7 linked regions of the Homo sapiens genome follow. The protein of the gene in region 7 purifies or fractionates together with the protein of the main gene of each other region. This does not show direct contact. Each region holds a gene or a part of one and is shown on either strand. Other genes may lie near its edges. The genes, in order: VPS4B, SLC25A16, COL14A1, TEX15, ZNF146, UXS1 and SPOCK2.

Region 1 (3,967 bases), on a different chromosome or scaffold from region 7:
GAGACAGAAATTTATCATAACTTCACTAGACCAGTAAGAACAAAGCCACTTTATAAACTTACCTATTTTATAAGTCTCTCACATAATCCATGAGGTAGATCAAAATAAAAATATAACTCCCTTTTTTTTTCCCCAAGTCTTTACTAAGTACCTAAAAGCACTCAACACTATATTAATTGCTGGGGAAAATGTAACTCTCAGAACTTACAATCTAAATGATCTAAACATGATCAATAGAACATGCTCCAGAGAAAAATCTTAACACAGCAGCAGCAGCAATTTAACTGCTAAAGAAACCCAAAAGTAGGGTGGGGGTAGTTTGGGTGGTCTTCCTGCAAGAGGTTACATGGTTCATCATCATTAGGTTTTAATGGAAATACGTGATGTGGACTAGCAAAAAAAAGAAAGATACCATATTAAAATAAGAGGAGGATACAAATGAAGGGATGAAAGTAGGAAAGAAAAGGGCACCTGTGAAAACTCACAAACTTAAAATAACATTAGTGTCAACAATGGGCACTGTGTTGCTTCACTTGCAACATACAGCACCATCAGGTAGGTATGCCTCTTTATCAACTCTGAAAGTGGCTAAATGGTGCTTCTGTGGCACTAATCAAGTACACTCATTCTGTTTTTCTGCATGTAGTTGACAGTGGACTCAGAAGTCAATTCTCTATTGACATGTTTTATAATTATAGAGTCCTTATAGATTTCTCAGGGTGAGACAAAATGCTTTCAAATATCCAGGGTGTAAGTCATAGAGATGCTTAACAACTATGATCTACTTGCTGGCTCAGAAAATGTCTACCTAAACTTTATAATTACTGGTCAAGAGCCAGAGAAATAGAACATGCCCATTCGGATTCCTTTGAGTATCTGTCCATAAAGAACACACAGCAGTACTGTATAATTCTGAGGCTGATAAACAGGTAAGATGTATAAATTATCTTATCCACAAAGAATTCAGTGTTAGTTTACTAAGTTAGTTCTCAATCCTCACATAAAAGTCATTGAAAAACAGAATTTTCATATATACATTAATAATTTTAATGATTTCTTTGTATCTAACCAATTTAGGTAATATTTTCTTTTACACAGAAGGTCCCAAAATAAAGAATAATACACAGAATACAGTCAATAGGTTATATCAATTTACTTCACATAAGAGCATAATTCAGGCCTTTTCCATTTAATAACAAAAACAATCTGTACAGAAAACCCAAAGGCAACCACATAGCATATGTAAAATGTGCAAATACACTTTAAAATGCAAGTTATTCTATAGCATTTGCAAGATAGAATTTCACTGTAATTAGGGAATCTAGTTCATCCTAACTTAATAGTCTTTTGCATGTATAGACAATGCAATTCTACAAGGCACAACTCAGCGTTGATGCTAAAGTATGAAACACATCCTCAGATTATTTATTTGAAAATATTAAAATAGCATCGTTTATTATTTTTTAATGAGTCATGAGCTCATTTCTAAAGCTTCATAAAGCATTACACTGATAACATATGTGTGGTCAGGACAAACTGTTCCCTGAACTTAAAAGGTGAAGGACAAGACCCCATATTATTATCCTGTATTAAAAAAGGAAATATACATATATGTACACAGACACCCCATATCACAGACAAGAAACTTCCCATAATTCAAAGGGAGACCATTTCCTTATTAGCAAAGGTGCGCATTACAGTATTTCATGACAGTTAAAAATTACACACCTACCACCTGTTTTGGTCAATCTTGCTAAAAAAGACACTGAAATAGACAATTTTCTTCTTTAAGGTAAAGACAATGTCTAATTTAGAAAATCTTCCTCTTGAGATTGCACAGTGAAAGGTATCAGTTAATTAAATATAAAAGCTTACCGTTTTTGTTTTTTTTTGAGACAGAGTTTTATTCAGTCGCCCAGGCTGGAGTGCAATGGCGCTATCTCGGCGCCCAGGCTGGAATGCAGTAGCGCGATCTCAGCTCACTGCAACCTCTGCCTCCCAGGTTCAAGTGATTCTCCCGCCTCAGCCTCCTGAGTAGCTGGGATTACAGACACTCGCCATCATGCCCAGCTAATTTTTGTATTTTTAGTAGAGACGGCATTTCACCATGTTGGCCAGACTGGTCTTGAACTCCTGACCTCAGGTGATCCACCCATCGTAGCCTCCCAAAGTGCTGGGATTACAGGCATAAGCCACCATGCCCAGCCAAAGCTTACGCTTTTAAAGAAATTATTTAAATCTACACAGAAAAAAATATCAACTTATTAAAAACTATTAAGAGCACTGTCTATAATTCAAAATCTTTCAAACCCAATCACAAAGCTCTTTGCTGTTTTATTGCCCATCCCTGAGTAAAGATTCTATCATTTGTAATTTTTTAATAACGTAAATTTTACATTGATAAGAATGATGTTTAACAATTTTTTTGAAAATATAAAATAAACCCTATATCATTTTAGTAAAAAAAAAAGAAAATATAAATGCTCTTTGCAAAGACCACCATTCATAAAAATTGTAAATATTTGTATGTCAATTTCTGACATCCTTTTTACTGGGTAATTTCTGTTTTTATGCCGTTCATATATCGCTCATTTCCTCATAACCTGTTATTTTGTACCTTTTGTTAATAGGAGTATTTAATAAGTAATGGAGGAAAAGTACAATATAAAACCTAATGGAACTCTGAAGTGAGATGTGTATTTCCCTGTGGTAAAAGAGTTTTACTGGAAACAATTAATGCGATCCAAATAGACAAAAATATCTATGAAAGAAAGAATACATATGGTAAGCATCTTCCTTGTCTTTGGCTTAGCCTTCTTGACCAAAATCTTCTGTAAACTTCTTTAATTTCAACAAGTCATGTTCATTGACTGTAGGTTTTGTGTTAGATAGTGACCGCAACATATCCGACTGTCAGGGAAAAAGAAGGGTAGGGAGGATATTAATAATAGAGTTAACAAAATAAAAAACCGTCATATTATCATTATTGCTATGAACTTTAACCTAAGTTTAAATATGAATATTTGCAGTCTGCCATAAGATACTAACGATAAACTCCCTATTCTTTTTTTTTTTTTTTGAGTTGGAGTCTCACTCTGTTGGCTCAGGCTGGAGCGCAGTGGCGTGATCTTGGCTCATTGCAACCTCTGCCTCCCAGGTTCAAGAGATTCTCCTGCCTCAGCCTCCCAAGTAGCTGGGATTACAGGCACCTGAAACCACACCTGGCTAATTTTTGTATTTTTAGTAGAGATGGGGTTTCGTTTTGTTGGTCAGGCTGGTCTCGAACCCCTGACCTCAGGTGATCCGCCTGCCTCTGCCTTGCGAAGTGCTGGGATTACAGGCGTGGGCCCCTGCACCCGGCCCCTATTCTTTCACAGATCTTTCATGATCTTTGATCATGTTATTCCTTTGTGTAGAAACGTATACTTTCTTCCCCTGAACTGATCAAATGGCTCCCCAATACTTATCAGAAGGACAATCCCCTTAGTCTGAGGATCAAGGCCTCCAAAGTATGTTCATGATCTAATTTCTGGCCTTATCTCTTTTTCTTAAACGAGATCAATTTTCCAAGTCAGTATAATTCAAAAGGAAAATATCATTCACTTACACTTAAGTGAAGCAGAATACCATTCTATGAAAAATCTACTAACCAGAATTTTAAAATAATTAGTTACAATTAAGATCGAAATGGTTAGAAAAATATGCTAATATCAGAGATTCATTAAAAAACTAACTTCTAAGCCTAGACTCCTGTAAAAGGATATGAAAAATAATGAAAAGGACCACTCTAAGTTACTAAAAATTCTTCAAAGCTGAACAAAGTACAAAAAATAAAAAATAATACACCAAGGATTAAAACAAAGGGGTTTCTGAGTAACTTCTCAGATAAGCATTATGGTTAGTTCACACACAAATATATGGGTGTATACACATTTACATGTATATCTATGTACCGTGTAAAAGTTTC
Region 2 (3,500 bases), 3.6 Mb from region 7:
GTCTACTTAAATATTCTACTATAGAGCAAATCATCTAACAAAAACAAATCTATAGTGTTACTTTTTTTTTAAGAGCAAAGATATTCAGTATTTTTATTTCTGCCTCTGGGAAACACACTGACATTTTAAAACACATGTAAGTCACTCATAGTACCTCATAATAACATTTGAGCAAGACTTAGTCGTTCATTCATTTATTAAGTGGGGTTTCATGATGTTGCATAGGCTGGCATGGAATTCCAGGGCTCAAGTGATCCTCTCACCTCAGCTTCCAGAGTAGCTGGGACCACATGCCCATCCCACCATGTCCAGCTTCTTCATTTATTTTTGTGTCTCTACATGGCTACCTTTTAAATACAACATTAATTTTATTTAAAAAATGAAGGAAAGAAGTGTTTTTCCTATTATCCAGTGGAGCATAATTGTGAGAAGAGAGATAACAAAAATAAAATGTCAATGCTGGCTGTTTCATAGAACTTAAAAATTCAATTCTCATTATTCTATTGCAATATAACCAACCCTGTTTATTTTAATAATAATAAACACTGTCAGTCTTTTAAAAACCATGATAACAATTAAAAACTTTGAACAGCATGACAAAGCTAATGGCAACCTCTTGAACCCCGTTTTAAAGCTAGTTCTACTTCCAAATAAAACTTTAAAGCGGTTTAGCCAGCATCAGCTTAGGAATATTTTCTTCAATGTTCTAAGGTATAATGTTTGGCATCAAAAAGTATGGTAAGCAGTTCTGATTTGTGACTAAAGAAAAAATAATCAAGTACTAAAATACCAGTGGCTCTTGTGACAGGGTAAATATCCCCATTCAAGTAATGTTCCCCCCACAATTATAGTAATGTTTCATTTCTCCCTCTGAGAATGTATTAAGAAAAACCAACCATAATTTTTTTTTAGTTGAGGTGAAAAAACTGCTTCATAAGTTCGTATGTTGTAAAAGCCACTGCTTGAGAGGGAATACAGCGAATGTAATTAAGAGATAAACCACGATAGAGTCCTTTTCGAATTCCATGGTGTCCATAGACATACTTCATAGTATCCCGCATGGTACTGAAAGACAATGATTAAATGATGACCTCTATGCCCACTCATGAAGAAACAATTTCAGGATCCATAATATCAATTTTGTTTTTTTGAGATGGACTCTTGCTCTGTCACCCAGATGGGAGTGTGGATTGCAGTGGCATGATCTTGGCTCACTGCAGCCTCTGCCTCCCAGGTTCAAGTGATTCTCCTGCTTCAGTCTCCTGAGTAGCTGGGATTACAGGCACGCGCCACCATGCCCAGCTAATTTTTGTAATTTTTAGTAGAGACGGGGTTTCTCCATGTTGCCCAGGCCAGTCTCAAACTCCTGACCTCAGGTGATCCACCCACCTTGGCCTCCCAAAGTGCTGGGATTACAGACATAAGCCACCTCGCTCGGCCCATAATATTAATTTTTAAAGAAGGTTAAATGCCATCTTGAATAGCTTTAGAAAGACAAATGTTTTAACAAGTGAAAATTTTTTCATAATAAAAAGGCAAGTCATTCTAAACAAGTACAAGCATTATGCATCAAATTTCAGGACTCATTAGTACAACATATTTTGTTTGTACTATGTCTATGACATTTACTGGACAACAACTATTTCATACTTATATTTGAAATACTAATGCAATCCTTTTAAAGGATGTATATCCAGTTGCCCTTTAAGCCTTTATTATAGCTCAAGTTGTATAGTATCAACAGCAGGTGGTTATAGAACTAAAGCTTGAAGGACTATCTTTCAGATTTCAGCAATGAACACTTTCCTGTTTCAGAGTTGTTCCTTTCCTTTCAAACCAATAATTTGGGCTTGGGCTTTCCCTTTCAATAGGCAATCTGGACCGAAATCTTTTCAAAAATCTTTTTTTTTTTTTTTTTTTAAGAGACAGGTTCTCACTCTGTTGCCTAGGCTGGAGTGCAGTGGCAATCATAGCTCACAACAGCCTCCAACTCCTGGGCACAAGCAATCCTCCCACCTCAGCCTCTTCAGTAGCTGAGACTACAGGCACACACCACCATGCCTCACTAAATTTTTTGTTTGTTTGTTTTTAGTTAAAAAAAATTTTTTTAGAGCCAAGGTCTTACAATGTTTTCCAAGCTGATCTCAAACTCCTGGCCTCAAGTGAACCTCCCACCTCAGCCTCTCAAGTAGCTGGATACAACAAGCACAGGGTAATGCTCCCAGCCCAAAAAATCTTTTGGGTGAACACGGCAATCCAAATTCATGAACAAATGTTCTGCTCTTCCCCTGAGAGACAACATATCACCAATCAAATGGAATGGTTCTAAATTACTATAAAGAAAACTCTGGAGCTGTGCTATACAATCACAGCAGCCACTAGCCACATATGGCTATTAAGCACTTGAAATGTGGCAGTCCAAATCAAGACGTGCTGTGAGTGTAAAATACACCCTGGATTTCAAATAGTTTGTATTTAAAAAAAAGAAACAAAATAATGAAATGTTGAGGTGATAAAAGTTTAGGTTAAACAAAAAATATTTTTAACAATTATATATATATTTTTTCTTCTTTTTCTTTTCTTTTTTATTGACACGCAGCCTCGCTGCCAGGCTGGAGTGCAGTAGCACGATCTCGGCTCACTGCAACCTCCGTCTCCTGGGCTCAAGTGATTCTTGTGCCTCAGCTTCCAGAGTATCTGGGACTACAGGCGCACACCGCCACACCCAGCTAATTTTTTTGTATTTTTAGTAGAGATGGGGTTTCACCATGTTGACCAGGATGGTCTTGATCTCCTGACCTTGTGATCCTCCCGCGTCAGCCTCCCAAAGTGCTGGGATTACAGGTGTGAGCCACCGCGTCCCAGCCCTTTTTCTTTTTTAGACAGAGTCTCGCTCTGTCGCCCAGGCTGGAGTGCAGTGGCATGATCTTGGCTAACTGCAACCTCCGCCTCCCAGGTTCAAGCAATTCCCTGCCTCAGCCTCCTGAGTAGCTGGTATGACAGGCACCTGCCACCAGCCCAGCTAATTTTTTTTGTATTTTTAGTAGAGACAGGTTTCACCATCTTGGCCAGGTTGGTCTTGAACTCCTGACCTCATGATCCACCCACCTCTGCCTCCCAAAGTGCTGGGATTATAGGCGTGAGCCACTGCGACAGGCCTTTTTTGTTTTTTTCAGAGTCTCACTCTGTCACCTAGGCTGGAGTACAGTGGCGCCATCTCAGCTCTTTGCCTCCTGGGTTCAAGCAATTATCGTGCCTCAGCCTCCTAAGCAATATTTTTTTTTTTTTTTTTGAGATGGAGTCTCACTCTATCGCCCAGGCTGGAGTGCAGTGGTGCGATCTCGGCTCACTGCAAGCTCCGCCTCCTGGGTTCACACGATTCTCCTGCCTCAGCCTCCCGAGTAGCTGGGACTACAGGTGCCTGCCACCACACCCGGCTAATTTTTTGTATTTTTACTAGAGACGGGATTTCACCATGTTAGCCAGGAGTACCAGACCAG
Region 3 (4,680 bases), on a different chromosome or scaffold from region 7:
TAAGACAAGGACAGCATGATTTTTGTTTCCTCTCACAACTATTCTTGGTCACCTAAAATGTGGTGCTTAAATGCACCTAAATGCAAGTGGTATGCATGATTTCATTGAAAATAATCTAAGGAGCCCTCTTAATTACGGGAGAAGTTCTAAGTTTGACATTTCCCCAAACCAAGAGTAAAATTTTATGGGACGTCTTGGCCACATCACAGCTGTCACATAAGAATGGAGACTCCAAAAGAATGTTCAACCATGTCCTCCAAATGTGCTAAATACAAAGTCAGAGGCCAAGTCTATGTAGGTCATCACTGGGAAGCAAGGAAGACTTAGATGTGCTGTTATTTTGAATTTGCTCTTAAGGTTTTTAAGGGAGTAGCCTCTATAGCAATTTGCACTTTATAGAAAATGTCTCGGGATAATTTAAGGAAGTGAGGCATTCAAGCTCTGCTTCCCATTCATAACCAATTTAACTTTTTTCATAGCACTATCTTCCCATTTTGGTACTAAGCATACTAAAACATTGATCAAAGCCCACAAGCGGGGCTTTTTGTGACACTTACCTCTCACACCATAGGCAGAACATGATGAGGGGTCACAATATCCAGGCTGGCCAGAAGGACCTTGGGGTCCAGGAACCCCCAGATGACCTGGTGGGCCTCTTGGTCCAGGAGAGCCAGGGGGCCCAGGGCTGCCAGGCCGACTCTCCCCTGAAGGTCCTAAGAAGTACCCACAGATGAAAACCGTTGGTCTTTTGCCACAACAGGGTGAGTTTTGAGACAACCAAGAAGTAAACTAACTCTTAGAAGAAGCAACTTTTAGGACAATTAGGACAACCTCTTTCTACTCATTGAGTTCTTTTTTGTAGACTGGATTCCCTAGGCAGAGGGTCATAGTGTAATCACTTATCCTCCTGGAGGTCAATGCTCTCAATCAGCTCAGGAAACTGGCAAGCAAAATGCATCTTTTCTATTTCCTCTTGGATGTTAAAGGGAAAGGAACCTTCCATTATCAACCTTATTTTCTTTTTGGAGCTTTTGTTTCCCAATGCAGTTCCTTATGAATCCAATCTATGGGCGTGCACACACACAGACACAAACATGAACACACTCAGAGCTCAACCTCATCATCTAGTTAGAATAGCCATGCAATTCAGTACCAGTTTATGGCCCCAGATAATTAAAGCTCAACCTCATCAACAGTTAGAATAGCCATGTAATTCAGTACTGGTTTATGGCCCTAGATAATTAAAGTAAATTTGTATGAGTGTGAAATTGTCCTGGAGGGGACCAATGACAAGTTTGACATTCGACCCAATATACTAATCCAAAATTTCTTTAAGCTAGTTTACATTAATTGAGAATTCAGACTGAGTAAAAATAGGAGGATTAAAACTGTTGTGAATTGAAGAAATTTGTCAGCATGTTTTTTTTTTTTTTTTTGGCTTGTATGCTTGTTTTTAGGTCCGGGTTCCAACAGTGTTGAAAAGGCATTCTTCAACTATAATGGAATTTCTCAACTAGAACTGAAATGAAAAGTAGGAACAAGTATCACCTTCTATTTGAATAGCGTGGTGGCTCTCATATATTCAGCTCCTCAATCAGCACTCACCAACCACCCATTCTGTGTAATGTGTAATGTTATATCAGTTCCTCACATTGTCTCTAATAACAGAAATATTTACACTCAAAATGAATTGCATTAGGAACCTCTCTCAGAAAAAGTATTTTCCAAAATCCTTACTAGATTGGAAAGAAAAATCTGTAAAGCACTTTACTTAATGTGGCTAAGACTGACATTATAAATATATATTATAATAAGATTGCAAATTATAATAATTCTAATATCAAGCCTGATCATCTGGAGACCATTCTAAAAGCATATAATACACAAAACTCAAAACTTTTACAGAACTCATTCAGTAAGATTACCATGGCAGGAAATACTAGTGCTCACCAAATAGCCCTGTATTTCTCTAAATTTTGTGTCTGCCTTGCAGTTCAGTTGGGGCTAGGTGATTAGTTCCAGACAATAAAATGTGAATGGAAGTGACATCTCATTCTGTTTAGGAAGTTGAGACCGGTGTGCCTTCTTTTTTTTTTTTCGAGACAGGGTCTCCCTCTGTCACCCAGGCTGGAGGGCAGTGGCACCATCACGGTTCACTGTAGCCTCAACCTCCAGAGCTCATGTGATCCTCTGTTTCAGCCTCTCAAGTAGCTGGGACTACAAGCACATGCCACCACGCCTGGTTAAATTTTTGTATTTTTTTTTTTTTGGTAGAAATGGGGTTTCGTCACATTGCCCAGGCTGGTCTCAAACTCTTGGCCTCAAGTGATCCTCTTGCCTCAGCTTCCCAAAACGCTGGGCTTACAGGAGTGAGCCACCGCACCCAGCCCGATGTGCCTTCTTTTTCTTTCTCTTGGAGGCTACATGATTCACCATGGAGGTCATGGGTTCTGAGATGGAAGAGAGCTACCTTATTCATATGAAACTTTGTGTGATTGTGAAATAAAGCTTTATTGTGTAAATCCACTAAGCATTTGGGATGTATTTGTTACTATAGCATAGTCTGTCCTATCGCAACTCACACAAACAATAAGATCCCAGAATATGCTCTAACTTTTTGGTCTTGTATATTGGGAGGATCCTTATTAACAAAGAAGCCTCCCAATAAAACAAGTAAGAAATACAGCCATTTAAGTTACATACTAGGATGTAAGATGACCATTTTCCTCACTTGCAATGCCAAGTGAATATAAAAATATACATTTGCAGTCTCTTGTTAGGAAGGAAGATTTACCTGCTGGTCCAGGGGGGCCTCTTGGACCTTGGGTTCCAACGCCTGGATTTCCTTTTTCTCCTTTGATACCAGTTAGACCTGTTTAAAATAATTTTTAAAAATGTTTAAAGTTCTTTTTAAAAGAAAATCTTGGTAGTTCCATTTTTCTGGAGTTCGAAAGTGCTTCTCTGATGAAGACAATTAAGTGGGTTCGTTTGGGGTTATGAGTACCATGGGACTTTTAAATTACATTCTGACATTGGTAGTATATGTAGAATCACATGTTGAAGTCTGGTTCTGTATTTGAGTGTGTGGTCTGTATTTGCTATTCTGCCAGTCTCTCTTTCTCCTTCCTACTGAAGTCACACAGCCTGCCAAGAACTGGTCCTTGTCTTTGCACGCACCAGGCCACTGGACTTATGCAGCTGGCACTCCACAAGTAACACAATAGAAATCACAAGTGAACACGTCTAACATTTTCCTTTTGGTCCACTCTGTAATGTGTCTGCAAAAGGCATGAATTGTAATTAGGCAGCAACATTCTGAAGAGCGTGAGTTTCCATTAAAACTTGGAAGCTTCAGAAAAGCCTGTGTTTGATTTGGCTGATTCAGCCCCATAAAAATCTAAATCTATTCATGTTTCTTTTCCATGGAGCAGACCTCTTATAATTTACAGTGCTATTAACAAACTATACATTTTCACAGGCAAACAACAAAGAAACATATACTCTGACACCTCATTATCTAAACAGGTCCTATCACAAGATCACTTGAAAGGTGAGAGCGCCTATATTGAGGCCCAAGATACGGTTGCATTAGACTGGGGTCTGGGTTACCCTGGCTTACATCATAGAAGATCTTTGCTGTCTGTTTTTTTGTGTACAACAATGCTTTGAAATAGCAGCATGCAGAACAGCATCTCTGTTTAATTATACCTACTGAGAAATTATGTTGAATTGGCAAAGCCTAGAAGGAAACATCAATAAGTGAAAAATGGCCAATTTGACAGGTAGCAGGCATGGAAAGGCCTTGCAATTTTTTAAAATTGCAAATAACTATTTGTTTACTTTAAATATAATGCATATTCACTGTCAACAAATTAGATGTAACAAGCAAGATGCTAGCACTTGAAAATAATCACTTTTAACATCTTAGTTTATAACTTCCAGAAAGAAAAGTGTTGATGTAGTATTTGTTCTGGAAATCACTGGTAAAGAAGACTCCGGTGAGGAACTAACAGGTTTTGGTTTTTTGTTTTTACACTGCACATATAATGGTTGTTCCTAACCTGCAGCTTTGGTATCTTTTGTGCTCCCCGTAATGATCTCTTGCAGTCAAGACATAGCCTGGCATCTCTTTTAAAAAGCTCTTCTTCTTTACTAGGAGTCATCCAGGTTGGTCTACTCATTGCTAGAATTCCCAAACACCCAATCCTATTGCATGTCACCTTGATGGTGCTATCTGAGCTTACAAAAGACCAGTATCTCCATGACAGCCCAGGGCACAAACCACCATGCCTGTGACTTTCTGTTCAGTGCCTGGTTCTTCTCTTAGGAGCCCATAAGGAAAACAATGATTTCTCAAAAGTAAAAATACCATCTCATCTGAGTTTTAAAAGCACACAGCTAACTCTGACTCACCAATATTTAATGCTCAATTGCTAATCAAGTTGTTCAGACAGAAAACCGTGCTGTGGAAGCCTACTGGGCATTAGTTTAGTAGCTAATCGGAGTTTGTAGTTTTTAGCTGAGAGGCACTACTTCACTTGTCAGTGCTTATGCCCCAATGTGCATCCGGGAATTTAGCCGAGAATCCATCCTCTTCTGTTTGAACTGGAGTCACTTTGCCAACAGGGAACAACTAATTTTGAAAGAACTAGAACATAATAAAATATACTGATGACTAAC
Region 4 (4,680 bases), on a different chromosome or scaffold from region 7:
GTATGTTTTATATAAAGTCACATTTGGCCAAGGAGTAAGAATCAGCTTAAGTGAACAGCAAAAGAAAAAAAAATTGTTTTAAGTTCCTCAAATCCATTTTTCTCTCTAGAAAATGCAATTTTTTGTGTCTTTCAAGCCCATGCTAATCAATTAAACCTAGTGTCTTTCTGTGCCTTGGTTTTTTCATATGTAAAATGGAAAATTTTCATACGTAAAATGGGAAAATCTGCTTATAAATTATTTTGGTTGACTGTCTTCTGCAATATTGTCTTTTTCATGGGTCTTTCAAGCCTATTCCCAGCAGTTAAACCTAGTGTTTTAGTTTTTCCTAAGGTATTACATGCCTGCTTATCCAAGGTACAAATACAAGCACTTTAATATATGCTTGTTCTCTCTCTCTTTTTTTTTTTTTTTTTCTTTTGAGATGGAGTCTTGCTCTGTCACCCAGGCTGGAGTGCAGTGGCACAATCTCGGCTCACCACAAGCTCCGCCTCCCGGGTTCACATCACTCTCCTGCCTCAGCCTCCTGAGTAGCTGGGATTACAGGTGCCTGCCACCACACCAGGCTAATTTTTTTTTTTGTATTTTTAGTAGAGATGGGGTTTCACCATGTTAGCCAAGATGGTCTTGATCTCCTGACCTCATGATCCTCCCACTTCAGCCTTCCAAAGTGCTGGGATTACAGGCGTGAGCCACTGCGCCCAGCTGCTTGTTCTCTTTTAAGGCTAAAACAGAAACAAAGACTTCCCAGGTCAATAAATAATATAACTATTTGAAGAAGAATGGAGGAATGTTAGATGATTAACATTAAACTGTGAGGATTAAAATATTATGCCTCTTTATTTGATTAAACATACATTAATAATAATAGCCAATACTTATATAGCGCTTTACCATAAATGAGTCACTGTTCTGTGTGTTGTAGTAATCAATATAGCAGAAGAGTGTTGATTAACTGAATTAATCTACTAAATACTGTTATTTTTTTCCCATTTTACGTATGAAGAAACTGAGGCACAAAAGTATAGGTAATGGGTCTAGCGTTGCAGTCAGTAAGGGGCAGATAAAATTTGGGTTTTGGGGGTTTTCTTGTTTGTTTTGTTTTTTGAGACAGGGTGTCACTCTCACCCAGGCTGGAGTGCAGTGGCATGATCACAAGGCTCATTGCAACAGCCACCTTCTGAGCTCAAGCAATCCTCCCACCTCAGCATCCCGAGCAGCTGGGAATACAGGTGTGCCACCATGCCCAGCCTTTTTTTTTTTTTTTTTTTTTTTTGTATTTTTTGTAAAGACAGGTTTTCGCCATGTTGCCCAGGCTGGTCTTGAACTCCTGAGCTCAAGTGATCCACCGGCCTCAGCCTCCCAAAATGCTGGGATTATAGGCGTGAGCCACAGACCAGGTGGTCTGGCTTCACCAAACTGCCACCAAAAATATTATCTCTTATCCATGGCGTGAATAAGTCAAATAATTTTCTCTTAAAAATAATCTATCTGAATTATGCTAAATTTTTTAGAGGAAAATTTTTTGCTTGGTACAAATTTGCAGTCTGAAAATTACTCTATTTTGGTGATCTGGTATTTAATATGACAATTCAAAAGTAGGACTAAAATTTTTAGTCTGACAAAGGAATAGCAGCATCCCAAGAGTTCATTCTCTGCCTAGAATGCTATGACCAGTACTCCAGTTTATTTCTCCTGGGGACTCAATAATATTCAACTTTTGCCTACAGTTTTTTTTTTTTTTTTGAAGTCTTTTTAAGTCTTCAGTTGGTCTATTTGGTATAATTCCCACCAGGTTTGTTGCAGTACTTTGACATTGCACGATCAAACAGTTTCTGAAGAATTTTTGAGAAGCCTGTTTGTTACTAAAGTCAGGTAGAATCTTAAAATGAATGTTAGAAGTAGACAAGTTATATTAAAATTCATTCTTGATAGGGACATTAGTAAGAAGGCACATGAATTGCTAGTTGTTAGCTTTGTTACCCCCACATTTAATGTAAGTACCTAAAGAAAATGTGTAAGTGAACTCTTTCATGAGAAAGATGTATAATTAGATACATTTAGAAATTTATAATTGTGTATTAGTGTTTTTCTGGGCATAACTCCATTACAGTATTAGATAACTTGTTTTAACCTTATCAAGTAATACATTTTTTTAATTTTAGGTTCAGCAGATCATAAAAGGTGAATAATGGTCAGCAGCTATGTTTTTCATACTAAAATGTGGAAAATAAAGCTGTTGACTTCTTTGAATTAACACAGAAAGATAGTTTAATGTTTTAAAATGGGAGGAATATTTTATATGCAAGATGACGTCATGCACACCTCATTGACATTGAAAGAGAAGCTGAGGAATACTTGTGGTTTTTAACCGGAAAACAACTCACAGGGGGAGGAAAAGTTGATTCAGTATTGGTCAATCCTAGTTAGAAATTTATGAATTTCTAGTTAAAAATGTATTACCTATATAGCTATTTTCCTACATTAATCAAAATGAATTGTGTGAATATTTAGTTATGACCAATTTCAGGGTTTAAATAAGGTCCTTTTTTTTTTTTTTTTTTGAGACGGAGTCTCACTCTGTCACCAAGGCTGGAGTGAAGTGGCACCATGTTGGCTCACTGCAACCTCCATCTCCTGGATTCAAGCAATTCTCCTGCCTCAGCTTCCTAAGTAGCTGGGATTACAGGCGCCCACCACCACACCCGGCTAGTTTTTATATTTTTGGTAGAGATGGGGTTTCCCCGTGTTGGCCAGGCTGGTCTCAAACTCCTGACCTCAGTTGATCCACCCACCTGAGCCTCCCAAAGTGGTGGGATTACAGGCGTGAGCCACTGAGCCCAGCCTAAATAAGGTCGTTTTATTATTATTTCCTTTCCAAGACTTGTAGTTATTAATTCCCTTGAAAGTTGTGTCATTATCTTTAATCATCTGATTATTTCTTTGTATTTCCCTAATGTCTTTTAAAAAGCCTCATAACCATAATAGATTAGTAACTAATCCCTGTGCTTTTATGACAATTCCCAACTTCTTTTGCATATAATTTCCATCTGTTTGAGCAGAGAATACACTCAGTTTGGGGTTGTACATGATTGATCTGTCCTCATCTTTCACAACCTATTAGCACAGTCATCTTCCATATTTCATACCCTTCTAACACCATATCTGATTTCAAGGACCTTGGCAAGGTAATTATCTCTCTGTTTATATCTGCATAGGGAAGACAAGTGGCTTTAAGCAGGCAAAGTGGTGACTTTTTTGCCATTCTCAGTTTTTCGCTATCAGTAACACAGAGGATGGCATTTGTTATATTTAATGCTTGGGCTGAAAAAAGAATGCTGATTTGTAGAAGGATAGGTAATCCAGGTAATCTTCCTGGTGGAATAAGATGCAAGTTATCCTGTGCTAGCTTACTTTATGGTAGAGTGGGTCTATTTCAGTCAAGCCAGTCAGAATATGTCCTTTTTGAGAAAGCTGAAGGAAGGACTAGGACTGAAGGATTGAGTGAAAAGTTGAGCTGTTTCTCACCTTTCTCTGCAACCAGGATGACCTTGGCCTTTTTGTGGAACTCAATCTGTTTGTACTGCAGCTCCTAGACTCCAAAGGGAAAGAAACCAAGGGAGTCCTAACCCCTGGGGGCCCCTTAACTTTGATTTTTCCCCGTGATGAAAAGCAGCTGGACTGGAAGTACTCCTCCCCATAGCCTGGGCTCTTGGGACAGTCTTTTAAACATGTAAATTATTTTTAAGTCTGCTCTCATTTGACTATATAATTAGATAGATACAGGATCCTCCTTGGACCTAGAGGAGAGCCTGCCCCAAATTTTTAGAGAAATACATCCATACAGCATAGGTCATTAAAACAAGATTATAATTTGAGTCATCACAAAATCATGGAAATCTTTGAGTGCCAGTTTTGGCTTCTAGTTTGGGAAACCCTTCATAATGGAGGTTGGTTGATTCAACATAGACTATGTAATATGCATTATCAAAATAAAATAGTTTAACCACATAGTTTAAAAGCATAATCCCTCTCTTGCCTTTTCCCTGAGGGGCAACAGACAAAGTCTGTGCAATAAATATGAACACCTTGAGAAATGTACTGGTAATCCTCAGACATTTCCTTCCTGGAATACTTAAATTCTACTGTGCTTCATCACCTAGATTGGTGGTTCTCAAACTGTCGTTTCTCTTCACTATCAATGTCACCTGGGAATTTATGAGAAATAAAAATTCTTGGGCCTTAAACATACAGAATTAGAAACTCTGGAGGTGGGACCCAGTAATCTGTATTTTAATAAGCCCTCTAGGTGATTCTGATACACACTGAAGTTGGAGAATCACCAATCCCTTTGATCATCAAGGATGAACCATAGTTTTTTGCTTTGCTGGTCTGTTACTTCACTATAAATATTTTATTGCCCATGTGGATATTACTGCATGTGTATACCAGGAATTGGCAACCTGTGTTAGTACTACATTGAATGATACCCAAGTTAAAATTGTTAGTGACCTTCACAGTTCTTTTCTACTTCCTTGTCTTCCTTCTTGCAGAGTGCCTGAAACAAGGTAGCCACTGGATAATTTGTTAATTGAATGCCTATCTTCCCCCCTTCCTGCCCTCCCCCTGCAAAAAGCAAAATCACGTTTTCATTTATCTTTTGGTTTCTTCCTCTGCAGG
Region 5 (4,680 bases), on a different chromosome or scaffold from region 7:
ACTGCTTAAGCCTGGGAGGTGGACGTTGCAGTGAGCCGTGATCATGCCACTGTGCTCCAGCCTGGGTGACAAAGCAAGACCCTGTCTCAAAAAAAAAAAAAAAAAAAAAAAAAAGAATCACAAAGCAGGGGCAGGGCTTGGTGGCTCATGCCTGTAATCCCAGCACTTTGAGACACTGAGGTGGGTAGACTGCTTGAGCCCAGGAGTTCAAGACCAGCGTGCTTAGCACTAAAAAAAAATACAAAAAAACTAGCCAGGTATGGTGGTATGCACCTGTAGTCCCAGCTACTTGACAGGCTGAGACAAAAGGACTGCTTGAGCCTAGGAGGTTGAGGTTGCAGTGAGCCAGAAAAAAAAAAGTAAGAATCACAAAGCAGATGAAAACTGAAACATAACAAAATGAACTTAAGACACAAAACTTTTAAGAAGGAAGCAAAGCTATAAATAGACCACAAAAGATAAACAGAGGAAATGAGTAAAGAAACAGTCACCCAAAAGAAGGGAATCGACAGAAAACAGAAGAATAGGAATAGACATCTTATTTTTGTCCCATTTGATTTTTTGTTTAAGGATGCAATAACGAAATTTTGAGGGATTGTTGTTTCCTCAATCAACAGATTTTCCCTGGTTGTTGCACCTTGGCTATTAGCAGTGTCCTCAGTCTTTCTGCTCACACTCCCACTGACCCAGGCAGCATGGGTAATCTATATTTATATAATCATAATCTGTATCTGACCACAAAAGCCAGTATCTTATCTAATGTAAAAACACTGAAAAGCAAATCATGATAATAAAAGTAATAGAAAAACACTGAAGGCATTTCTATTAGATTCTAAACAGACAAGGATGCCTACTGCCTCAATTATATAATCTAATTACAAATAACTAAGGAAAGCAGGGAATAATATTAGTATGTAGAAATCAACAGCTTCATATATGCCAACAATGACTCCATTCATAGCAACATAAAACAAAACATCCAGAAATAAACTTAGTAAGAAGTGTCCAAACCTGTATGAAAAAAATTTTAAAACACCCTAGAGGACCCAAAAAGAAACGAGAATACGTATCACGTACATAAAGAGGAATATTTAATGTCATAAAAATGTCCCTATTCCCAAGTTATTTTATAAATTTAATGCAATCCCAATAAAAGTAACAAACTAGTTCTACCTTTTCCCCCTCTGGAACGAGACAAGCTAATCCTAAAATTTACAAAGAAAAATAAACAGGCAAGAATAGCCAGGAAACACTGAAAAGGACGAGCAATTAAGAGACTAGCTATACCACAAAGTAAAACACAATGATAAAGCCTCAATAGTAAAAAGATAAATATTTTCCCTGGTTGTTACACCTGGGCTATAGCAGTGTCCTCAGTCTTTCTGCTCACACCCAGAAACAGACCAAATAAATGTGAGAATTTAGTATATAATCAAAGTGGCATCCTAAAAATAGTAAACATAAGACCTTTTTTTAATGTGTGTGAGATGGAGTTTGGCTCTTGTTGCCCAGGCTGCAGTGCAGTGGCACAATCTCAGCTCACTGCAACCTCCGCCCTCCTATGTTCAAGCGATTCTCCTGTCTCAGCCTCCGAATAGCTGGGATTCAGGCATGTGCCACCACACCCAGCTAATGTTTTGTATTTTTAGTAGAGACAGGGTTTCTCCATATTGGCCAGGCTGGTCTCGAACTCCTGACCTCAAGTGATCCACCCACCTTGGCCTTGCAAAGTGCTGGGATTGCAGGCGTGAGCCACCGTGCCCAGCCAGGTAAGACCTTTTAATAAATGATGTCAAAGAACGTGGTAGCCAATTGGAAAAAGGTAAAGCTGGATGCATATCTGATAGCATACACCAGGATAAAATCTAAATGGATTATAAATTAAAATAAAAACAAAATCTTAAAAAAACTATTGCTCTGACTTGGGAAGCCAAGGTAGCAGGATCACTTGGGCCCAGGAGTTTGAGACCAGCCTGGGCAACACAGGGAGATCTTATCTCTACAATTTTTTTTTTTTTAAATTAGCGAGGATATGAAGGCTGCAGTCAGCTGTGATCACGCCACTGCACCCCAGCCTGGGTGACAGATCAAGATCCAACTCTAAAACAATCAAACAACAAAAAACTGTAACTTTATAAGAATTTGAAAATATCGGTGAAACTTAAGAGTGGAAAAGTCTGATAACCATAAAAGACTGATGAATCAGCCACGCGCGGTGGCTCACGCCTGTAATCCCAGCACTTTGGAGGGCCGAGGCGGGCGGATCACGAGGTCAGGAGATCGAGACCATCCTGGCTAACATGGTGAAACCCCGTCTCTACTAAAAATACGAAAAAATTAACCAGGCGTGGTGGCATGCGCCTGTAGTCCCAGCTACTTGGGAGGCTGAGGCAGGAGAATGGCGTGAACCCGGGAGGCGGAGCTTGCAGTGAGCCGAAATCGCACCACTGCATTCCAGCCTGGGGGACGGAGAGATACTCCATCTCAAAAAGAAAAAAATGTAACTAGATTTTTTTTTTTTTTTGAGACGGAGTCTCACTCTGTTGCCCAGGCTAAAGTGCAGTGGTGTGATCTCGTGCACCACAATGACTGGCTAAATTTTTTGTATTTTTAGTAGAGACGGGGTTTCACCATGTTGACCGGGCTAGTCTCAAACTCCTGACCTCAAGTGATCTACCCGCCTCAGCCTCCCAAAGTGCTGGGATTACAGGCGTGAGCCATCGCGCCCAGCCAAAAGTTTTGAAAATAAAAAGAAAACCATAGCAGCATGGTGGTGCACTGCCTGTAGTCCCCGCTACTTGGGAGTCTGAGACTTGCTTGGGCCCAGGGGTTCAAGGCCAGCCTGTGCAACACAGTGAGACTGTGCCTCTAAAAAATACATGAATAAAAAGGTCTTTGGTGTGGTGCGGGGATGTCTCTGTGCTCACCAACCACAGGGGGCTCATTCTAAGCACGGCTATGTAAAAAAAGAAACTATTATTACTAAATTAAAACAAAACCTCTTATTTCTGCAAGATTAAAAAAAAAAGAAACCACTGTGAACAATGTCCAAATGCAAATGAAAACTTCAAAAAAAAAAAAAAAAAAAGCCACCACTCATTTCATACAGGGCTAACCTTTCTAATTTATAAACAGCTCCTCTAAGGAGAAGACACCCCATAGAAAAATGGTGAAAAGGATATGAATAGACAGTTCCTAGATTAATACATACAGGCCTTTAAACATATAAAAAAAAATTCTCATTCATAAGAAGGGATGTAAATGAAACCTACACTGAAGTTCAGATTGTCTCTTATGTCCCTAGCGAAATACCAAATATTCGACACTACACTCATGGTGAGTTTAAGGGGAAGACGCTCTCGCACATGGCTTGTGGGAGTGTAAGTACTTACCCACTGGGCAGCGCCATTTGTATTAATAGCAGTCTAGTTTAGAGCTACTCCTGTGTCAGTATAAAATGGCGCACATAAAAAAATTATTCATTACTGCATTGTTAGCAACAGCAGAAGACTGGAAACAATCCAAATGCTCAACAACGGGATTAACTGAATCAACCATGGTGCATCCAAATAATGACATCTTATTTATACAGCAGCTGAAAAAAAAATTTCTTTTAAAGATTATGATTAAGAAGGAACACCTTGGCTGGGTGCAGTGGCTCACACTTGTAATCCCAACACTTTGGGAAGCCAAGAGAGGAGGACTGCTTGAGCTCAGGAGTTCGAGACCAATCTGGGAAACAGTGAGACCTCATCTCTACAAAAAGTAAAAAAGCCAGGTGTGGTGGAGTGTGCCTGTGGTCCCAGCTACACAGGCGGCTGAGGCAGGAAGATCACTTCAGCCCAGCAGTTGGAGGCTGCAGTATGCCATGTTAACACCATTGCACACCAGCTTGGGTGACAGAGCGAGACTATTTCAAAAAAAAAAAAAAAAAAAAAAGAAAGAAAAAAGGAAGGGCTATCTCTAGGACATACTGTTATTAAAGAAAGTGAGATATAGGGAGGTGCATGTGGTATGCTATCTTTTATGTAAGGTGGAGGGAAACAGGAGTGAAGAGAAATATATAATAGTGACAGAACAAAAAACAAAAAACCCACTTGAAGGATAAACAAGAAGCAAACAAAAAAAAACAAGACATGTTTACATAAGACAAAGAAGAATGTGACTGGGGGAAGGGAGCAGAATGAGATATCTCTGTGAGATAGATCTTTGTTGAATCACAGAAATGCATTACTTACTTCAATAGTAATCAAATTCATTTTTTAAAAAGTAGTGCCTTGGCCAGGCACGGTGGCTCAAGCCTGTAATCCCAGTACTTTGGGAGGCTGATGCGGGTGGATCACGAGGTCAGGAGATCAAGATCATCCTGGCTAACATGGTGAAACCTCGTCTCTACTAAAAATACAAAAAATTAGCCGGGCGTGGTGGCTGACACCTATAGTCCCAGCTACTCGGGAGGCTGAGGCAGAAGAATGGCGTGAACCCGGGAGGCGGAGCTTGCAGTGAGCCGAGATTGCGCCACTGCACTCCAGCCTAGGGGACAGAGTGAGACTCCGTCTCAAAAAAAAAAAAAAAAAAAAAAGCAGTCCCTTAACCTGAAAACAACAAATGAACCCAACTGTATGTTAATTTAGTAACATAATTCCTCAGAAAAACGATTTCAAATGACTTTAGAACAGA
Region 6 (4,680 bases), on a different chromosome or scaffold from region 7:
CAGGGGCTCCACTGCGGGGCTGATGGGGACCACTTGCCCCTGACCTGGCCCCGCACACTCAATAGGCAGGCAACTGGGGCTACGCAGGGCTCTGAGCGTGTGCTGCCAGCGCCCTTGGCACAGCGTTCACAGTCAGGGGTGTGTGTGTGTGTGTGTGTGTATGTATGTGGGAGAGGGAGTGTATGTGTGAATGTGAGTGTGGATCAGTGAGTGTGCGCATGTGAGTGAATGTGAGAATGTGTATGATAGTGTGAATGTATATGTATGTGTGAAAATGAGTGTGTGTGAGTATACTTGTATTAAGTGTGTTTGTATGACAGTGTATATATGACAGTGTGAGTGTGTGGGAGACAGTGTGAGTATATGTGTGTACAAGTGTTTGTATGGCAGTGTATGTGTATGAGAGAATGTAAGAATGTGTGTGTGCATGAGAGATTTTACGAAAACAGAGCCCAGAGCAGGGGCTTCCAGCCGCTTCCCAGGTAACATTCTCTGAGACTCCTGATACAGGAGAGGCTGTTTACCACTTGGAGAAAACCCTCTATCTGCCTGGATGCCGAGCCCACCTTGCTCCTCCGGGGGCTGTCTGACAAGGGTCAGTGCCTACAGGACAGCAGACACAGGACACGGGAGGCCCCTCCCCACAAGGCAGCATTAACTCCCTGCACTTACCACGGGCTCCCACCCCAGCATCAGCTTTGCTTTTTTGATGTCTGGTTTTCTTTTCTGTGGGTCATCCTGGGCTTCGGAGAGAAACTGAATTTCACTTCCGCTACCTGAGATGTTTAAAGAAAAAAAAGGTAGGAGAGAATCACAAAGCATGGGTAAGCACAGCCTTACCATCCACATCAAAGGCAAACCCCATATGTGGTGTGAATAGGGTGCAGGCGGTGGAAATGCAGTTCTCTGAGAAGCCCCGGAGCTCCCGAGGGACTGTTCTGCGTGGAAGTCCAGGGAGTGCTCCTGCAACTGCTGTGGCCAAGCTGACTGTGTGCAGGCGCCCAGCAAGAGCTCGGTGGGGGGCAGGTTATTCTGTCTCAACAGGCCTGAGTTACCGCCCACTACAAGAGGGTTGCTCCAAGGCAGACCACCCACACCAGGTAACAAGTGCAGACGTGCCCACCGAGCATGACCCCGGTGTGAGACCACAAACGTGGTGTGGGGCCATCCCTGAGGTGGATGCCCCAAGTGGGCCATACCTGGGTGCTCGGAGCCTAGACAGCCCTGAGACCCAAGATGTGCAGCCACCCAGCTGGAGGGACCTCTCGGAGGACGGCAAAGGCTGGCCTGTTCCACATCCTTGCTGGGCCCAGGCCCCACTGGCCAGCAGTACACAGCCCCACCAGTGACTGTGGGCCAGACCTGCAGAAGAAAGCCTGTGGAGGCTTTCCCTGCCTCCGTGTCATGGAGGCCACATTGCAGACTCTGCAGCGAATCACCACCACAGGTGGTTCAGGATGGTCTGTCACAAAGCTATATACAGAAGCACAGCAGGGAAGCTGCACGCCCCTCCCCCCAGCCTTAGGTTTCAAATAGTGTTTCTCAAGCGTCAGCACGCACGGATCACCTGAAGAGCCTGTCAACAGGCAGATCCTGATCTGGGGGCCTGGGCTAGGGCATGAGAGTCTGAATTTCTAACACACATCTGATGATGCTGCTGCTGCGTTGGCCCACGGGCCTCACTCTGTGCAGTGAGGGTGTGAAGGAGTGGATGGCACAGAGCTGTGATCTGAGCCTGCCCCTTCCTCACGCAGGAGGAACACACAGATTCAGGATGGAAAAGCTGGGAAGTGCATCGGAGCAGCTGTGGGAGCCACAGATGATGCAGGCTATGTCTGAGGAAGACCGCTGCTTCTACTGCCACGAGCAACGGGAGGATTCCAGCCATCCGGGTCGATTAGACCAATGCCGATGAATGGCAGCCTGATGCCAGGAAGGGCACACTGGAGGAATTAACCCAGCCAAGCGGGGTCTGAATGGTCACCTCAGGACACACTGTGGCATACTCCTCCTTGGCCTACCTGCCAGTCTAGTCTGGTTGTGACTTCACTCAAATTTCAGGATCAACCCCAGACAACAGACACCCTCCAAGAGTCTGACTCCTCAGAGCTCCAGGAAGTCTGAAGATGAGGCCAAGGGCTCATCCACTCTATGTCTGCAATCCAGGGCTGGTCTGGAAGACCTGACCTTCTCATGGCCTAAGAGTCCACCTTGATGGGGTGCTCCCAATGCTACACTGCCCCCAGTGGGTGGCAGCCAGGATAACCAGAATTGCAAACAGAATTTCAAACCTGCCTGAAGCACGCAGCTGGTGGTTGCTGTCTCTTGCTGTCTGAAATTCTATGCTTGACATGACCAGTTCGGAAATCCAATAGTTGTCACCCATGTAGGATGATCTAATACAATCGTGCCTCAAACACTGGGAGCAAATCTCCTCCTCCCTCCCACTTCATGCAAACCTGCAACGAAAACTGAGGAGAAACCAATCCTGCCCTCCTTTATCTTTCTATTCCTTAAAAATTAGAAAACACTTAAGTATTCCTGATAAAAAGTTCTGCTTTGATCCAATTCAATTAGCTTGTATTAATTACCCACTTTCTAGTCAAGGTGTTATTAACAGATAGGGCAGGCACAGTCGATTTTACTCAGGAAATGACTTATCCTACTTACCAACAAGGTTTTTAATTAACTGAGCAAATTCTAGGATTGTGTGTTCTTCTGGGTTCCCCTAAGAAAGAAACGGTTTCCAGTTATAAGCGTCATGACAACAGCAGCAATCCACCACCCAGACCACAGGCGTGTCTGCAGAGACGTCTACTGGCCGAGTCTGACCTCCCTGCGCTGCTTCAGCAGAGCTCCGTGTGCCAGAGGGTACTCCGCTTCCAAGATGACAGTTACTCACCTGGCAGTGCTAAACTGCACCATCTATACCTTCAGCCTCTAGGCTGCTGTGTACAAGGCTGGGCTTTGGATAGGTCAAGAGTTTCTGATGAAGGCACACACTCACTGAGTATCAGACAATTTCCATATCTAACATAACTTCAATGTCACTTTTATAAAAGCTTGGGTTTACAAAATTAGCTCTCCTAACACTATCTATTCCCGTCTGGGTGAGCTGTGTTAACCATGTCAGTGATGAAGGACTTGTAATCTCACACCCAAAAGCTAAGGCAGAAATGAGTAGGCTCACAGGCGAGTGTCCCCGGCAAGCCAGAGGACAAACTCCATGCATTTCATGAAGAGAGAATACTTGTGTGGGGGCTTTAAGGAAAACCATTTGCTCTTTTTCTCCCTCCCATCACACATCAGAGCACCTGTTACTCTTACTCTGCCACCACTGCCCTCATCATAAGAGACCACCATAAAGTCTGATAATTCTATACCCTAAAGCCTCTTCATGCCCAGGTCCTCGGTTAGCCTGAAGCTAGATGGTAAATGTGGAGGGAGAGACCCTGGGCCTCAATGGAGCACAGAGGGGATGACTAGCGAAGTGGAGTGACGGAAATTTGCAAGAAAGTGATTCTGCCTTTCTCCTGGCAGACACACGATTCCAATTTTAGGAATTGTCCCTGTGCAAAGGCCCTCCCCAAAGAGGGAAGGAGGAACATGGTATCTACAGAGAAGAGCCTGGCTGCCCAGGGAAGTCACTGACAACACCCTTGCTAAAGAACCTGCAACAAAAACGCAGAGCAGGGGCGCCTCGGGCCTCTCCAGTGTACACAGGCAAATGCTGCAAGCAAAATGAGGCTTACAGTGTGAGGCACGTTCTGGTCTGTTTTAAGTGAATTTTTTTCAAAAGTGGCACACTGTACCCATGAATCAGCAACAGTCCCAGAATGGAGTCAGCACTCCAGGGCAATTCTTTCCTACGTGATGAGAATTCCCTTTCACCTCAGGGAAAAATGCATGGTCTGCAATGTATTTGAGATGGCTGGTTACAAAGACATGCATAAGCAAAGGTGACATGGTTTGCAAGAAATAGGTCACATGGCCAACATTTTAGAGTTCCCTGAACTTTAGAGTGTTGTGTAGGAACCAGGAGAGGTAATTTGGGAGAAGCACCTGAAATGACCCCAAGGTAGGGTTAAGGGGGAGGTCTCTGTGAGCTAAGAGGTTCTTGTGTCCACTGCCATCAACAGAAGCAGAACATCTTGAATGCTGGACAGTCCACATTGGAAACCTTGCATTTTAAATGAGATGGAACAAAACTGCTCAGAAAATCACTCAGTGACAGAAAGGGTAAGAGGTCCTACCATGACCTTGGCTGATGCACCAAGGAGGAGGCAGCTTAGGGGGTAGGACCATCTCCTTCAAATCCTTGGAGAGTTACCACACTGTAGAGGCATCACACTAGCCATGAATGGCCCCAGGTGGAGAAGTGAGGTCAGTGGACAGGTGTGCAGAAAGTGAGATTTCTGGTCCAATATGAGGAAGAGCTTTCTGCCGGCCAGAACTGTCCAAAGACAGGGTGAATTTCTCTGAGCAGAAGCAAGTTCACCAGCACTGAAACTGCTCAAGGCTGGATGATCCCTCCAACAGGGAGGTTCTGGGGCTGTGGGCAGGCATGCAGGGAAGGCGAGAAGCCATGAAGGTGGTCTGTCCGGCTAAATGACAGACATCATCAGCAACCGGAAAATTTTCCCTCTGAACAACCTCCATCTTCTAAAAATGCAATCAGGC
Region 7 (5,161 bases):
CACAATCTCCCCCGTCTTCTGCCAGAATCCCCTCCTCCCTGGCAGCCGGGCACCCAGCATTAGAAGAGATCGACCCAGGCACAGGCTGTAAGAGCCCTCAGCCCACTGGAGGGGAGGATTACTCAACTGGTAAATCCTGCCTTCCCTATAATCCTAGTGCTCAGAGAAAGATGCTAAGCTGCGCTCCCTCTCAACCAGCTCTGGCCAATTCCAAAGTGGAGCAACTCCCCAAGTTTTCATGCTCTTCTTCATTCTCCTGACCCTTTCAACCTGATTCCCTCAAGTTCCCCCTTCAGTTCTGTCCACACCATGTGAATGAGGCATTTCCCTCCCAATCCTGTTCCCCAAGAGTATCCCACTCGTCCTGCTTGCCTCCACCCTACTAGGACAAATAGGGGGGCCCTGTACCATTTTGGGGTTATGAACAAGGTCCCAGTTCAACCTTGTAACCCCTTAAGGGGTTCAAACGAAATTCCCCTCTCTCCTTTGAGGAACCAAGGAGCATATTTTCCAAAGAGCTGGCCTAATGGAAATATAAAGCCCGTTGCTACTGGGCCCAGTTAGAGTGCCTTCAGCCCTTAGGCAGGAAGTAGGGCTTCTTCTGGCAGAAGAGGGATATGTTTGTAGTGCTGGTGGGGACCCTGTGTACTGTCTGGGCACTGCACAACTTCAGGGGGCACCATTTCTATTGTGGCACCCCTAGAGTTATGCAATGCAGTGGCTCTGAGCTAGCAGCCTCCTTCCTGCCTTTCTGCAGAGGCTGTCAACAGATCCCCAGGGCCAGGCCCTCTTGCCCAGCCTTCTTTGTCCTACTTCTCTCCCTGACCCTGTCCTCCTGCAGCCAGGACTACCTTAAATGGGGTTTTAGAGGACATCTGTCCTACAAAAGCCTGAGGCTACCAAAATCAACACACACCTAAAGCTTTCCCATGAATCTTACATGTGCAAGTCCTGAAGACTTTCAAATCTAGTGCCTTTCTTCTGATGAGCATGAGAGGAAGGGGGAAGTGGTTGGCACCAATACAGAGAGACAGGTGGGTAGCCCAGTGCCATGGGGTCAAGCAGTAAGTCATTTATTCTCACCCACGGAGCTGGCTATTGGAAGCAGGTGGAAGAAGGGAGGTGGGGAGGAATCTTTTATTTTAAACCTTTCCTGTTCTGATTAAGCATTTCTTTTCCCTCTGACCTTCACTGGTCCCATTTTGGCAGATCAAACAGCCAGCGAGTCGGAGGGAGGCCTAGGCCAGTGACACATGGATTCCGGATGGGCCGGCCTGCTGCCGCCCCCTCGCTGCTGTGGCCGGGCTGCTGCCCAGGAAGCGGCAGGAGACTGCGGCTCATCTGCGCTGGGCCTGCAGGTGCTTCGGGAAGGCCTCGCGGGGCTCCAGGCTCCTGCGGCTGGACAGGTCGCATGTGGGGCGAAGGCGGAGATCAGCAGCCCATCGCGGGGCCCGGCCACTCAGCCTGGAGACCTGGCTGCCCGTGGTTCCTGCTGTCCTCTGTGAATTACAACCTGCCAGTTTGACTTTGGGGAGAAACAGTCACTTGTCTGACGGTAACAAAAAGATCCAAATCTCTGCCTCTTCCCATCACTTGGCTGGATAGCCTATGAAGCATGTGTGTTTTAAACAAATTTCCAAGGAACTTGTGGATGCACGCAGTTTAAGGAGAAAACGGGAGAGGTCATGGTGTGGCCTGCGTTGTACTGGGTGGGTCGGACGAGGGAACCTGGGGAAGGAGGAGTAAGGGCCAGGGTCCTAGAAGAGGTTTTCTGGGGTCAGGGCCGCGGTGAGCACCAGGTCGCCAGGAGCAGCCGGCGTCGCCTCTGGCGCATCCGGGCCCATCCCCCACAGCACCCCCAACGATCTCGGGGTCCAGCCACACCCTCCGCCCGCCCTGCCTCACCCCTGCTTCCCCAGCCCCCAACCCGGCCCGGCCGAGAGGAAGGAGCCAGCCCCGCCGGGCCGCCGCCTGCGACTTCCCCTCTGATCCACAGGTGCCGGTAAACAAAAGTGCCGCAGCTACCCCCCCGCCCCCACCCCGCGGAGTTCGGCCCAAGGTTACGCCGGGGTTCGGGCGGCGCCCGCCGGGGGCCCCCAAACCCAGCTTCTGGACTCTCCCCGGCTTCTCAAGCCCACCGGGCCGGGAGCCTTCCTCTGGCTCCGAGCTGCTCCCCTCGCTCCAGGCTGGATTCCCCCCTGAAATGTTGGTCCGGGAAAACCAGCCTGGGTCCTCGCGCGCCCTTCTGCACGGGGACCCCAGCCCACCCCCGTACGGACACGCCTTCCACCATCTCGCCTAGAAGGCTGCTGGGACCCCAGACCCAGAGCCCCGGTCACACTCCCGTCCCATGCTGTCCCCCTCCCGCAAAGCCCACGGTGGGAACAGAGGGCACCGCGCGAGCCGATGCCACCCTCACTGCCGGCCCCACCCAGACCTGCCGGTGCTGCAGTGCCCCGTATGTGCAGCCTGCAGCATCCCAGCGGCTGGGGCAGGCCCGGGGGCGGCTCGCACAACGCAGCTGGGGACCGGGTCGGGGTCCAGCGGCAGCCGGGGTCCGGGTCCCCCCGGCCCCGCACCCCTTCCCACTCCCGGCCCGCAGGGGAGACCCCGGAGCGCGCGACCCCGGAGCGTCGGGCAGGTGTGGAGCTGGGGGTCCCGGGGCTGGGGGGTCCCAGGGCCGCCGGCCCGGGCCGCAGGGACAGGGGAGGGGCGCTGGGCTGTGACCCCCAGTACTGTTTACTTTCCGTGTAATTAGCCGGCCAGGCTGCGGAGCCTCGGGCTGCGACGTGCGGCGGCCGCTCCCGCAGACCCCGGAGCTCAATCCCCGAACCCGCAACCCCGGGTCTCTGCCTTGGCAGCCCTGCGGACTCACGTCTCGGAAGCGGTTCCAGTGCTTGATCTTGCCGCTGTACTGCGAGATGGACGACAGCCATTGCTCGTCCTCCATGAAATTGCCGGGGGTCTCGCCCTCCTTGAGCCCCTTGGCGTCGCCTTCGGCCAGGGCTGCCGCGGCCAGGAGCAGCAGCGGCAGCACCAGCCGCCCGCAGCCCGGGGCGCGCATCGTGGTCTGGGTTCGACCTGGGGGGGTCTTGACTTCTGCAGTATTTTAATGTCCTTCCTCCCACCCCGCTGCTGGCGAAGCGCACGCGGCTGTCCTCAGCTCTCCTCCCGCGGTCTGCCTCCGGTGACTGGCGGAGAGTGGGTCGCGGCTGAAATGTGACCTGGTTAGGAGATGCACTTGTCTGAAAAAGCCCAGCACTGGACGCGGAGAGGGAGAGAGAATCAGAGAGGCTGCGCCAGCAGGGGCTGTAACTGTAGCATCAGCATCACGTTTGACATCATCATACCTGGTTTAAAAAAAAAAAAAAAAAAGGAGTGGGTAGATTTCAAAGCGAAGCGCTCCCTCGATGAGAGCGCCAAACGCCAGCCAGCCGCAGCGGGGCCCAGCCCCGCCTGGCACACAGGGAGTTGCAGACCAAGAAATCCAGAATCCCGAAATGTCCCTGAGCTCCCTCAAAGGATGGAGAGCAAGAAGGGCCCCAGGATCTCCCCGGGGAAGATGGGATGGGGGAGAGGGCACAAAACTCTCCGGTTACAAAGCCAGCCAGGCTCAGGTGTCGGAAAGGGAATTTGGCCAGACACTGTTTTTCTCCCCTTGCCTCCCACCCAGAGGGGCCTGCGCCACAGCCCTGACAGCTGGCTTCCTGCGAGTTATGGCTCTACCGTAATGGGTGGCTTCGTTAAGACAAAAGCCGTATAACAACTGGCTGCTCAGAACCATTGCTCCCCAGCGGCACCGCGTTGCGCAAGGCAAGGCCTGAGCACTGAGTGGCTGGTGAAACAGAGGCAGATGTCCTCCTCCCCAGGCAGCTGTTTAGGGGCTGTCACCCGTTTTGTCAGCTCTTCCCAGGACAACCCTAAAAGGCAAATGTCTGACCATTTCATCTGCCTTGGAGGCTGCAAATTTGGAAAAGGCATATTTGCTTATGGTTTTTTGACTTCAAGTTAGTTTGAATAAGCCACTGGGGAAGCCGGGGAGTGGGGGGCTGGGGTGGGGTGCTGGTTTTGTTTGAGGTGTTTCGGGTTTTGTTGAAACTGCGACCCTCCTTATTGGCTGTAGATTTAAATGTTGACATACCAGCGGGGAAGGCTGGAGGCTGGCCACAGTCCCAAGAGCACAGCAGAAATGGGGACAGGTTTACATTACAAATACATTAAAGAGGAAACATCATCTGATGGGACAAAACCTAGTGAACTTTTGGGACCCAAGCCCTAGATTGTGTTTTTATAAAAAGACTTAGCTGCTGTGATCTAAAAATAAAATAAAAATTTAAAATGCTTTAAAAAACATAATCTTAATCAGTAGGAAAAAACATAGCTTACAAGGTTCCTTGTCACCCTGAATCTGGCCTATCTGGGAACTCTGAATGCCTCAGTGGCTCAGGCCGGAGTCTCGTTGGGAAAACAGAAAACAATAGCTCCCTTTCCATGTTTTCTTGTTTCCTTTGCTGTTGGATTTAGTGGTGGTGCTGCAGTGAGGCCCTGGCCATTGACGTCTTCATCTCACAGTAATAAAGCATTCTTCCTGGGTGTGTCCTGGCGCTGTACAGTGAGAGAGCACGGCTTGCTGTCGTGGAGACTAGAGGACAGAATCCCACTTACTGGCTGGATTCTTGAGCAATTACCTATTTTCTATCTAAAACTAATGGTAATACCATCATTAAAACTGCTGTAAAGTGCAAGCAAAATTACATACTAAGTGGGCATAATGGGCATTTTTTTAAAAAGTTAGTCTTTCCTCTGGTTGGGAAGAGAAGGCTACGGTGTCCCATAGTTCTGAAGATTCATCAAAATTTGCCATCTTTTCCACCATCTCAATCCTACAATCCTAGTTTTTTGTTGTTTTTTTTTTTTTTGTTTCTGTTTTCGTTTTTAGCAAAGCTAGCTATATATCTCTAAGGCACTTAGGAGATAGGTACCAGATACCACAGCTCTCCCATTCCTGTGCTATCTTAGGGGCTTCCAGAGTTACCAAAGTTGCTGAATAAAGAGTTTGGAAAGGTGCTGTCAAGATGCCCATCAATATGACAATAGCTGTCTCCAGACTCTGAGGGTCAAAATGGCTCCCACAGTCCCAGGTAGCTTCTCCAGTGGGACT

What was found.
Region 1: the proteins of SPOCK2 (region 7) and VPS4B purify together in Homo sapiens (affinity purification with mass spectrometry; one large-scale study listed by BioGRID and IntAct). This does not show direct contact.
Region 2: the proteins of SPOCK2 (region 7) and SLC25A16 purify together in Homo sapiens (affinity purification with mass spectrometry; one large-scale study listed by BioGRID and IntAct). This does not show direct contact.
Region 3: the proteins of SPOCK2 (region 7) and COL14A1 purify together in Homo sapiens (affinity purification with mass spectrometry; one large-scale study listed by BioGRID and IntAct). This does not show direct contact.
Region 4: the proteins of SPOCK2 (region 7) and TEX15 purify together in Homo sapiens (affinity purification with mass spectrometry, with the first as the bait; one large-scale study listed by BioGRID). This does not show direct contact.
Region 5: the proteins of SPOCK2 (region 7) and ZNF146 purify together in Homo sapiens (affinity purification with mass spectrometry; one large-scale study listed by BioGRID and IntAct). This does not show direct contact.
Region 6: the proteins of SPOCK2 (region 7) and UXS1 purify together in Homo sapiens (affinity purification with mass spectrometry; one large-scale study listed by BioGRID and IntAct). This does not show direct contact.

The regions. Positions count from the first base shown.
Region 1 is NC_000018.10:63,388,167-63,392,133, forward strand, and holds the end of VPS4B (vacuolar protein sorting-associated protein 4B), read right to left. Parts: intron 2,911-3,967; coding exon 2,809-2,910; 3' UTR 1,024-2,808; downstream 1-1,023.
Region 2 is NC_000010.11:68,482,524-68,486,023, forward strand, and holds part of SLC25A16 (solute carrier family 25 member 16), read right to left. Parts: intron 1,094-3,500; coding exon of another isoform or gene 1,066-1,093; coding exon 909-1,065; 3' UTR 1-908. UniProt on the Homo sapiens protein: May be involved in the transport of coenzyme A in the mitochondrial matrix. Very little is known about the physiological function of this carrier.
Region 3 is NC_000008.11:120,365,363-120,370,042, reverse strand, and holds part of COL14A1 (collagen alpha-1(XIV) chain isoform 1 precursor), read right to left. Parts: intron 2,873-4,680; coding exon 2,795-2,872; intron 714-2,794; coding exon 558-713; intron 1-557. UniProt on the Homo sapiens protein: Plays an adhesive role by integrating collagen bundles. It is probably associated with the surface of interstitial collagen fibrils via COL1.
Region 4 is NC_000008.11:30,902,331-30,907,010, reverse strand, and holds part of TEX15 (testis-expressed protein 15), read left to right. Parts: intron 1-4,680.
Region 5 is NC_000019.10:36,221,187-36,225,866, reverse strand, and holds part of ZNF146 (zinc finger protein OZF), read right to left. Parts: intron 1-4,680.
Region 6 is NC_000002.12:106,096,046-106,100,725, forward strand, and holds part of UXS1 (UDP-glucuronic acid decarboxylase 1), read right to left. Parts: intron 2,729-4,680; coding exon 2,671-2,728; intron 777-2,670; coding exon 673-776; intron 1-672. UniProt on the Homo sapiens protein: Catalyzes the NAD-dependent decarboxylation of UDP-glucuronic acid to UDP-xylose. Necessary for the biosynthesis of the core tetrasaccharide in glycosaminoglycan biosynthesis.
Region 7 is NC_000010.11:72,085,265-72,090,425, forward strand, and holds the start of SPOCK2 (testican-2 isoform 2 precursor), read right to left. Parts: upstream 3,288-5,161; 5' UTR 3,065-3,287; coding exon 2,876-3,064; intron 1,729-2,875; coding exon of another isoform or gene 1,684-1,728; exon of another isoform or gene 962-1,683; intron 1-961. UniProt on the Homo sapiens protein: May participate in diverse steps of neurogenesis. Binds calcium.